Regions from separate parts of the Homo sapiens genome. Here region 1 is linked to region 2. The links come from fine-mapping of genetic effects on plasma protein levels. Region 2 holds a variant in brackets. A gene starts in the other region. All regions are shown on their reverse strands.

Region 1 (5,388 bases), not on the chromosome of region 2:
TTAAGATCTTCCAAAGGAGATGCCTCCAATTGGGATTGAGAGTTCCTACTGTTTATCGAGCATCTACTATGTGCCAGGCATTACACTGGGAGCTTTGCAGAATACATTTCACCTTAATCCTCTCACTTACCCTGGGAGGATCTAATTATTATTCCACATTTGCAGATGTGGAGACTGGGATTCAAGGCAGTTAATTGCCAAAATGCATACAGCTAGTTAAGTATTCTGGGACTTACTAGCACACAGCTATTGAGTACATAAAGAAAACAGAAAAACTCACTGTCAGATCCTGAGTGAAGATCCTGAGTGTATGAATTTAAAGGAGAGATCCTGGGTGGGGACAGTGAAACCCCAATATTAAGACAATATCAAAAATCTCAGCCTCTAAACAGTGTATAAATCGTTTGAAATTGTAATTTCCAAACAAAGCAAAAGTGGATAATTGGTTTTAGTGTTTCAGGAACAAAATCTATTAGCTTCAATTGCTTTGTCATGTCAAGCAAAAATGGGGCTTGGCTTTTAGCCACATAGTTATCTCGATATCCCATTTATCCTGGGCTGACACTTTGTCATTAGCACGCTCCTGCTATACAATGGCTGGTTCACAGACAGGGAAAAGAGGTTGCATTTTTTCAGCACTTGCTATATACCCACATGTGTGGAGACCCTGTGCTATAGGGAAACCTAGCTGGCAGGTTTTGAAGTGCCAGTCCTGCCTCTGCAGACCAGTTAGGTCTGGCCTGGGCGTGGTATGGAGCCAGGCCCCTTAGCCATTTGCAAGTCTCAGACCCAGGAAGGGAGAGGCTCTGTGCTCCTGGACATTCAGAGGGAGACAGCAGCAGCAGGAAAAGCCAGCTCTGCAGGCAGACAGGTTTAACACTTCCTAGGTGTGCAGGCTTAACACTTCCTAGGTGACATGGGTGGGTACCCTTGGTGGCTGCAAGCTTTGACTGAACAGTTTTGCTCTTCAGAAACTTATTTCCCCTGCATCATGTGAGCTTGTCTGAGTTAGGACATAGGTCCTAGGTCCGTGTTTGTTATCTTCTAGTCCTTCTAAATCAGATATATTTCTATTTAAAAACAATTAGGTTCTCTGCCAACACTTCTCTGTCCAAGAATTTTATCTGATTTTTAAAACCGTTTCATAAGAAAGGAATAGATGTGCTTTGAAAATTTAAAAATATCCCAGTTAGTTGGAGGTGAAATAGGTTGCCTGTTCTGTTCTGAAGTAGGAAGGGGACAGGAAGGGAAGGGGGAAAGGAAGAGAAGTGAATCAGAGGGGAGTGATGCAAAGAAGAGGAGAGTAAAGAGAAGGGGTGGAAAAAAGAGAGCTGGCATCCCTGTGCACCTGCTGTGTGAAATGTGGCACACAGCTTGGGGAAGGTGAATCCTTCACAACAGAAGTGCTGAGTAGAACTCTCAGTAACCATGGAAATGTTCTTCAGTCTGCACTGCCTGATAGGGAAGCCATTAGCCACGCATTTGAAAGGAAGCTGGTGAGGCTAAAGAAATAAGTTTTAATTTTATTTCATTGTAACTAATTTAAATGGAAGCTTGAAGAGCCTCCTATGGCCAGTGGCCTCCACCCTGGGGAAAGCAGCTGTGGACCTGTGAGTCCCACCCCAGCGCGCATGGTGCAAGCGGAGACCCTACCTTCCATGCTGAAGCTCCGCACAATGTTGGACGCTGGCGTAGTCGACTTATCGGACGTGTACCTGTTGTACAGGTCAATCATGTACTGCGGCGGCTCCACCCTGGTTTTGTCCTGCGAAGGGACCCCACTCAGGTTAAGGCTGCGCAGGAAATCCACCTTCACGTTCTCCAGAAACATCTTCAGGTTGAAGGTGTGCTCAGGCAGCCCACCTCCAGGCACCCCCAGTGGGCTGTGGGCGTTTCCCCCAGCAGACCCTCGTCCCCAGCTCTGCAGTGGCTTCCCCTGTAGGGAGCCAGCCAGCAGGGACAGCAGGGGCAGGGCCACCCACAGTGCCCCAGGACACATCTTAGGCCCGCGCAATCACCCAGAGAGGAGACTGCAGGCGGCCGTGCTGTGTTAGCGGGCACGGGGAGGAGCTGGGAAGGAGCGGGCCGGCATCTCCCTGCTGTTTGCTCTGAAGGAACCGTCCTGGCCAGCACCCACTCTCACCCGCTGCCGGGCTGGATTGTCCTCCACTTGTGCTTATCTGGTCCTCGATGCCGCGCTCCGACGTCTTATCTGAGGGAGCCTTCCGTTAATGAAGGCTCTATAAACATCTGACAAACACACAGGGCATGCGGGAAGGACACGGCCTACTGTAAAGAATCTGTGCTTCTCCAGGGGGTTATTGCCCCCTAATTAGGATACTTTCTCATTTCCTTGCCAGGGCTCTTCAGAAGAATCTCCAGGCAGGGTGACATATGCTCCATCTCCTGGGCCACAGGAGTGAAGAATCCAGGAAACAAGACCAAGTAGTCCTCCAAATATAGAAAGGACAGCACAAGATCACAGTGAACCGTGGGGGCTGGGGAGATGGGGAGAGTGTGGGGACCACATCAGGGCTCAGAAGAGGCCTGCTCCTTGCAGAATCGGAACCTGCCAGCAAGCCTCCCTGCTCTGTTGGTGGGATGCACTGCTGAGCATTAGAGATCACGAGTGAATATGGCTCCCGTGCAATTTAGTGCGGTGATGAGTCAAACTAGACACAGGCTGGGATCTCAACTCCCTCACCGATTCCCTGCAAATGTCACCTGGAACAAGTCACTGCAGCTCTTGGAGCCTCCCATTCAGAAGATAGTTATAGGGGTTAAGAGGATGCTGTGCCCCAGGCTGGCTTGGTGGCTGCATTCTGGATGCCCCCTCTCCAGCCCAGGCCTGATTGAGCTGGAGCTGGGGGAGGAAGCCCTGGGTTCCCCCAGCCTGCTCTGTCGGAGCTCCACAACACACTGCAGCCTGTGGGGAGCTCCCCACATCCCTGCATCCCAGCTGTGTCACTGGTCTGTTGTGGGGTGGTCTTAGCTCACACCAACCTGGCAGCCACCTGGCCCACACTCATCAGCAGGGAGAACCACGCAATCTGGTAGACAGGGGAGTAGGTGGGTTGTTCTGAGAGTGGTACATGCCAAGAAGATGATCCCCTGGCCTTTGGAGGCTGATAAGCTGTGGCCCAGGAAAGGGCCCCAGGGACTGCGTTAAGAGCAGTATGTCCACACTTAGACTCTGTCCATTTCCATCACGTGTGGCTTTGAGCAAAGCAAAGAAGGATCATGGTTAGAAACACTCTGGGGTATGCTGTGCCTGGTGGTTTACTCTGGGGAAGGTATTCTATGCTGGTGAGGCTGTCCGGGAGAGGCTGCAGAGAGCTGAGCAGGTTTAGGGGGGTGCAGGAGGGGCCACAGCATGCTGCGGTCAGAGATTGCAGAGGGGGATGGGTGAAATCAGGAGCCCCTGAATGGCTGGGCCTGAATAGAACTTGCTATCTCTGTCCTTTGATGACATGGGCCAGGGGAAGACGGGAAGCGTGCTGCTTCAGAAATGCTGCTTGGGAAGAGGACTGGAAGTGTGCTGGGCTTTGATCCAGCTCAGTGCAAGAATTCCATGGGGCAGAGAAAAGATGAATAAATGGGTGCCATGCCCAAGAAATGGAGCTGCAAATGCGGAGTGAGGTGTGGTCCGGGAGGAGTGAGGACAGGGCAGATGCCTGCAACATGGTCTGGCCAGGAGCTTTTCACACACGAGAGGCTGAGCAGAGGGATAGCCTAGTGGCCTGGATGTGCTCAGGGAGGAGCAAGGGGCTGCTACCTGACGTTATTTTTTAAATGTGACATTTTTTTCCCCTGTTATAACAGTAGTCTATAGTATAGAAAACTTGGGAAATGGAAAACATTAAAGAGAAAATAAATAACCTACAATTTAATCATCCAGTGATGCCCATGGTTAGCATTTTGAGACACATCCAACTCCACAATCCTATATCTGAAACCATTGTGGCCAGGATTGTGTTGAGACTCCGACAGTTTCAGATTTGGGGGATTTTGTATTGTGTATATGCAATAACATTCCCAAAGGGGTCAGAGACAACACCTTATAATGACACACATGAATATTTCTGCAGTGAAACAAATAAAGACACAAATGTCCATTCAGGTCAAGTTTTCCCAGAAAAGGAATTAAAAGAAACTCTAGGTTCTCAGATGGTTCTTTACTTGGAGGTCTCAGATGAAGGACTATGGACCTGACTGTATCCAGGGTCATCACAGCTGCCTGTGGGTGCTGGCCACACAGACTCTGACATGGGTGTCTTTCCCTGGAGCTGTGCAATGCAACATGCCGGTGTATATCTGAAAAGATTTGCCTCACAAACTCAAGATATCAATATGTTCACATCTCTTTCATTGTATTAAATGGATTGCTTGAGGTTTCCTGATCCATATTATCAGGAAGTCTAGTCTTCTCCTTTTCTGAATTGTCCAAGTGCTCCATGGGTAAATTAAGTCCAAAGGAGATAGGGTATGAAGGTGTTAGTCCAGCTTCTTCATGCTGGGAAGCGGGAGGGAGAGAGGGGTCCCACCTGCTGTTGCTTCTCAACAACACTGGCTTTGCTGTTGGGCACTGGTCCTACATGTCTAAACGGCTGCTTGTTCTTAGCTGCTGGAATGTCCTCTAGCCCAGGTCTGTGGGGTGGCCCCCATGAGGCAATAAGGTAACAGTGTTCTTAGACGTGTGCCGGGCTTACCCACCTCCAGCATGCGTGTCTCTGTGGCCAGTGGCTGGGTGAAGGTAAGAGGCCAGTTATGGTTAAACACCGATTCCAACCAGCCCTTTCTCAAATCTGTAGGCTCTTACGGGGGGCCTAGGTCACCAGCGGGACTCCCACTTTCATCAGGTGGTGATTTCAGGGACCTGGTTACCTTTTCATACAAATGGACCCTGGTCCATCTGAGAAAATCCCCCTAACTCTGGGTCTTAGGGAACAAGTCTCAAACTTGCTCTGATTTTCCCAGGAGGAAACAGACCCTGGATGTTCCCTCCTGCAGAAGGACCCCTCCCTCTGCTATCACCAGCTTTGCATTGTTGGGGCCTCAGGAAGGAGCTGCCTCACTTGAACCACAGAAGGTCTTATTTATCTCTCCTTTCCCCCCTCTTCCTCCAAATTGTGTACTTTCTAATTCTTCACCGACTTCCCAGGGAAGTCAGTCCACATGATTATTCAAAGACTAACGATCTGAATTATGGTAGTCTTATGTGTCTATACCTAAATAAAGCAAAGACTGGCATAAAATTTAAGAAAATCTACACCAAAGTGTCTTCAGTCTCTGCCTTAGGTTTACTTTCGAAGCCACTTGAGGTATACATGGTTTGATATATACAGGCTTGCTTCTCTTTGACAAAAATTTTTTAATTAAAATTTTTAA
Region 2 (5,388 bases):
ACAACAACAACAAGTTAGGAACAGAGGAAATAAAGGCAAATACAGACAGTTAAGAAAATGGTTGGGAGGGCCCATGTAGTTATTTGAGTGAAGCTTCATATCTGGTCCAAGGGACAAATGTGACTTCATCATTTACATACTAGCTTTCCCTAGCATTGAGTTCTAAGAGAAATATTTCAGATGTGGATTGTTATGGACTGAATGTTTGTGCCTCAAATCCAAATTCACATGTTGAAATCCTAACCCCCAATATGATGGTAATATGAAGCAGGGCCTTTGGGAGGTAATCAGGACAAAAGGGTAGAGTTCTCATGAATGGGATTAGTGCCATAAGAAGAGATAACAGAGATTACTGTCACTCTTATCTCTCTGGCCATGCAAGGATACTATGAGAAATTAGCAGCCTATAACCCAGAAGAGGGCCCTCACTAGAACTCAACCATGCTGGCACCCTGTTCTTGAATTCCAGACTCCAGACCTGTGAGAAACAAATTTCTGTTGTGTATAAGCCACCCAGACTATAGTACTTTGTTATAACATGCTGAACTAAGACATGGCTGCTCTATTTTCTTGTTATAACTTACTGGGTGACAGAAGAAAAAACAAACAAACAAAAAACCCATACAACTCCAGAGCTCTTCAAAAGCATAACTCTGTTAGCTTCTAATTTGAATATTACCAAAAGGAAGACTACCTGATGGAGAGCCACGTCTGTGACCCAATAATTCCCATCTTTATCTATACTCAAGCCATGTGGCAAGTAAAACCTGCAAAATAAAAATATTTGTGTTAATTACACATTTACTCTCAAGGCATATGTGACAGAAATTTTTCTAATTAATCTGTAAAGACAATGCAAAGTTATAAATTGATAAATGTATACTTGCATTATTATAGAAAAGAACAAAATGAATAGTTAATAAAAACTGTTATAATGAGATCTCCTTGTGACAAACCTTAGGTAGTATTTAATAGTATTAAAATTTATAAATTAAGCCTACATATAAATTACAAATGTTTATTATAAAGTATGGTATATTAGAGAAAACAGTATCAGTTTAAAAACAGGTTCTGAGGTCATAAGTGTTAACATCTTACAAATATGTATAAAACTGACTTAAGAAACATAAATGGATTGATATAGTTTGCGGTTAAAACATGTTGCAAGGAAATGTAATGTGTTAATATAAACTATTAGACATATAACTCAAAGGCTTTAAAGAGTGCCTATTAAAGACAGTAAAACCCACAGCACATAACCTCCAGCCAACATGGGCTGTGAATATCTAAGCAAAGTGAAATAGTGAGCTAGATAAACATTAGAGAAGGTTAATCTGGCAAATCAATCTTAATGATCTAGGTAAGGAACCTGGACTGAGCTAACAGACACATGGACAATACATTGAGGTGGTTTGGTCCAATGATATCCGACAATCCAATAGCTCTGTTAGCTTCTAATCTTAGTGTAGTGTTGACAATACAGATTTTTTTTCATAAGCCATAACTGTAACACTCTGATTTTGACTAATTAGCTGAACTAGATCCCTGTTTTGACAACTGAATGTGAGGATTATGATTTGCTTTCAAACAGATACTCCACCGATGGCCAAGTTGATTTAGCAGTAGTTTTTCTGCCTTCCCCTTAATTCCTTTCTGGAATGAGGGTGCTTCTGGTGAATAAATAGAGCACCAATGAAACAGGTTCAAACATTTCACCCCTGACACACAATCTTGAGAATGCTGTTAAAAAATTCTAAGCATCATTATTATCATCTCCCAAGCAGCTGCACTCAAAACGGTGGCTATCCACCTTGCGAAGAAGCTAGCTTTCCCTGTGCTTAAGCAGATGGAGAAGGGTATAATTCCTGAAGCTGTCAAGTTACAATGGTTCAGGAGATCTGTAAGCAAGTGCCTCCCTCACTTCTTTCAATGACCATAAATATCAGTCAACTTTTTTTTTTTTTTGGCTGCCAAGTGCCATCTCGAAATAAGACTAAATAATGAGCAGTTTTCAAAGCCAAATTACATACGCATGATAAGGAATGCTAAAAATGACATTTGTTTAGTATTCACTTTGAGACGGAAAAAGAGAAGCTCTTTTACTTAATGGTGATTACTTGATGAGTTTGGTTGTCCTGAAGAATTTTTCTGCTGAAGAATTTTTTTGGATCATTAGATCTGGCTGAGCAGCAACTCACTTAATCAAGTATGTAAGATATATATTACATATGTAATATGTAACAAGCTTGACTACATATTAAAATCACCTGGGAACTTAAGATTATTAGCCCCACTCTATACAGAATCTAAATCTAATTTTTTAAAGGACAAATTGACAAATTTTAATTGTATACATTTATGGGGTACAATGTGATGTTATGACATATGTATACAATGTGGAGAGATTAAATCAAGCTAATGAACATATCCATCACCTCAAATACCTAACATTTTTGAGGTGAGAACATTCCAAATATACTCATTTAGCAATTATGAAATAGGCAAGGACCTGAACAGACAGTTCTCAGAAGAAAACATACAAATGGCAAACAGATAAGTGAATCTAAATATTTTGAAGCTTCCCAGATGATTCTAATATTCAGTCAAGATTTAGAAACACCTATGTAGAAAATGAAAGATGGGATGGCCCAGTTAGTTTTCTGCTTTCTCAAGTGCAGTTATACAAAACACTCGAATTTCAAGACTCTATGATACACTTTATACTCAATATATGTAGTACAAGTCTTAACAACATAAGTCATTTAACTCACAGATTTTTTCCACTGGACTGGAGTACTGCAGCATTATTTGGATCTATGACAAGAATAGTGTCTTCTTCAATTGGTCCGAGTCCTATTTGCTGGTAAACAAACTTGCTGTCAAAC[G/C]AGCTAAACAAAAAGCATTAAATAGGACATGAAACAATCATAAATTCCAATGAAATTGAGAAATGCAGACCATTCACATAAATACAAAATCAAAAGAGCTCAAATGTATTTGACTTCACTCTTTGTCTGCCACATTTCAGTCATTTGGATTATAATATACCCCATTAACCTGTAGAACCATGCTACTCAGGGTGGTCAGTGGAACGGAAGCATTGGCATTGCTGGGAAATGCAGTTTCAGACCTACTGGACCTGAATCTGCATTTTCACAAGACCCTTGGGTGGTTCCTATGCTCACTGGGGTTTGAGAAACATTGATCAAGAACTCTTAATGTACCTGAAAAATTTCAAAAGCTCTTCAAAAGAGTATGCAGTCATTCAATAGACATTTTCTTTCATATTGCAAAAGAAAATATGACTTATTTTAACTTTGTCATTAATTATAATAATAGCTGGAAGAGCAGTGATCAAAATGTTCGTTATTATACTTTAGGTACAACATGCATATACATATTATAGAGATATAAAAGAGGATGTTCAAAGTATTTAAAAGTTACAAAACCGAATCTATCCTCGAGACAAAAATATGCTTAGAGGCATAAAACTTACCAAATAACAGCTATTCTATAACTACAAAATGAACAACTATGCAATAATTAATTAAAAAACTTAAATATGACAATTTCTGCTTTTAAACTCAGTACCTTTTAGATTATTATAAAATATTATGGACATATATTCATATATATATACTTTCAAAATTATATTTCCATTTAAATTGTTAGTAATATAATTTCTTAAATTCACAATTATCACAGACATGGTACTTATTTCATTTTCTGTTTGGGAAGTTATATGTCAACAGGGATGAATGACAAAGATAAGCTCTTCTAATCTAAGCTTCTGTAATATAGAAGTAAATGTATGAAACAACAAGAAACCAAGTTATCTTCTCAAAAAAGGATTGGATCAGTACATAGTTGAGGGGGGTGTGTGTGTATGTGTGTGTGTGGGTGTGTATGTGTGTGTGTTTATAAATATACATATCAAGTCAATAAATGACTTATGAATATTTCTGTAAAACAGAATTGCCTTTATAGCATCAGGCAAGATTGTGAAAAAAGTATTAATATTTTGTAGTGCAACTGGTTAAGCAAAAGAAGAATCTGAATAACATTAAATATTTGCTATTATATATTTGCAATTTGGGAAGGTAACAGACTGCTTGGATCTGTCATGAATCCATTCATCAGTTGGCTGCCATATTTATGGAACTTATGTAGAGTCTCAGTACTCTACATAAATAGGAGAACAAAAAAAAATTCTTAAATTATATTCTTTGGCCATTAAAAAATACACCACACAATTATCTGAGCTACTTGACTGTTACAGTCTTTTGGGTATAGTTTTCCTGAAAGACAACAATAAGTCCCTGAAGTAGTTCTTATTAATGATGCATTCAATTGAACACAAAATATTGATTCAGCTTTGTCAATCTAAAACTTCAGTAATACTCTTTATATATGCTATTATATGCAGTTAAAAACCACACAGTGGTATCTAGAAAAAAATAAATTTATGAAATGGAAGTATCATCATTAACAAAACAGATTTCATAAGATATTTATGGGGTCATTATCAACTGAAATGTGAAATTTTATTAGATAGGAACCAATGTAAGAATACTCATAGTATTATTAAATTATGGGAAAATGGTAAAGGGAAAATATGAAGTCACTCTTGCTAGTATGAAACACCAAATAATTTATCCTATATCTGAAAGTTTATTTTCAATATGAATTTATTTACTAAAAACATCATAACTATTCCTCTGAAAAACATAGGTACTGGATTCAACCATTAATAATCTTTTATTTTTCCAAGGTGACTATAATAATGACTAACAAGTTCAGCACATCTGAGACTCAGTATATTGTAACCTTCACATTCATATGTAATAGGTTAAAGTTTCTTCATTCACTATCTCTTTTTAAGGTTTGATATGGTTTGGCTGTGTCCCCACCCAAATTGTGTGGTGTATTTTTTAATGGCCAAAGAATATAATTTAATAATTTTTTTTTGTTCTCCTATTTATGTAGAGTACTGAGACTTTACATAAGTTCCATAAATTCAAGTCTTATTTTGAATTGTAGTTTCCATAATCCCCACATGTCATGGGAGGGACTTGGTGGAAAGTAATTGAATCATGGGGTGGTTACCCCCTTTCTGCTGTTCTCATGATAGTGAGTTCTCATGAGATCTGATAGTTTTATAAGGAGCTTTTCCCCCTTTTGCTTGGCACTTCTCCTTCTTGCCATCATGTGAAGAAGGACGTGTTTGCTTCCCCTTCTGAAGCAATCTGCCTGATTGTAAGTTTCCTGAGGCTCCTCCAGCCATGCTGAACTGTAAGTCAATTAAACTTCTTTCCTTTATAAATTACCCAATCTTGGGTATGTCTTTATTAGCAGTGTGAGAAGGAACTAATACAGGAAATTGGTACCAGA

Direction of the effects. Alleles are on the strand shown, and positions count from the first base shown. The strength of an association depends on the size of the effect and on how common the allele is.
For the plasma level of the protein whose gene starts at base 2,214 in region 1, allele C in region 2 goes with a lower level than allele G (weak association).

Evidence for each region. PIP is the chance, under the fine-mapping model, that this variant and not a neighbour inherited with it causes the effect. Protein levels are from antibody-based Olink assays in UK Biobank. Linkage for the fine-mapping came from a reference panel and not from the study's own genotypes, which makes the PIPs less certain.
Region 1: GDF2 starts here. The variant in region 2 is fine-mapped to the plasma level of the GDF2 protein (UK Biobank, PIP above 0.99).

The regions. Positions count from the first base shown.
Region 1 is chr10:47,319,280-47,324,667 of GRCh38, reverse strand. It overlaps GDF2 (growth differentiation factor 2), which reads right to left and starts at 2,214. Exons shown (of 2, transcript NM_016204.4): 1 at 1,654-2,214. The coding sequence starts at 1,999.
Region 2 is chr5:103,000,533-103,005,920 of GRCh38, reverse strand. PAM (peptidylglycine alpha-amidating monooxygenase) reads right to left here. Exons shown (of 26, transcript NM_001177306.2): 17 at 2,772-2,888; 18 at 695-767. Among named protein-coding and RNA genes, the nearest start is that of GIN1, 120 kb to the left of the region's middle. The variant G/C (reference allele first, on the strand shown) is at 2,886.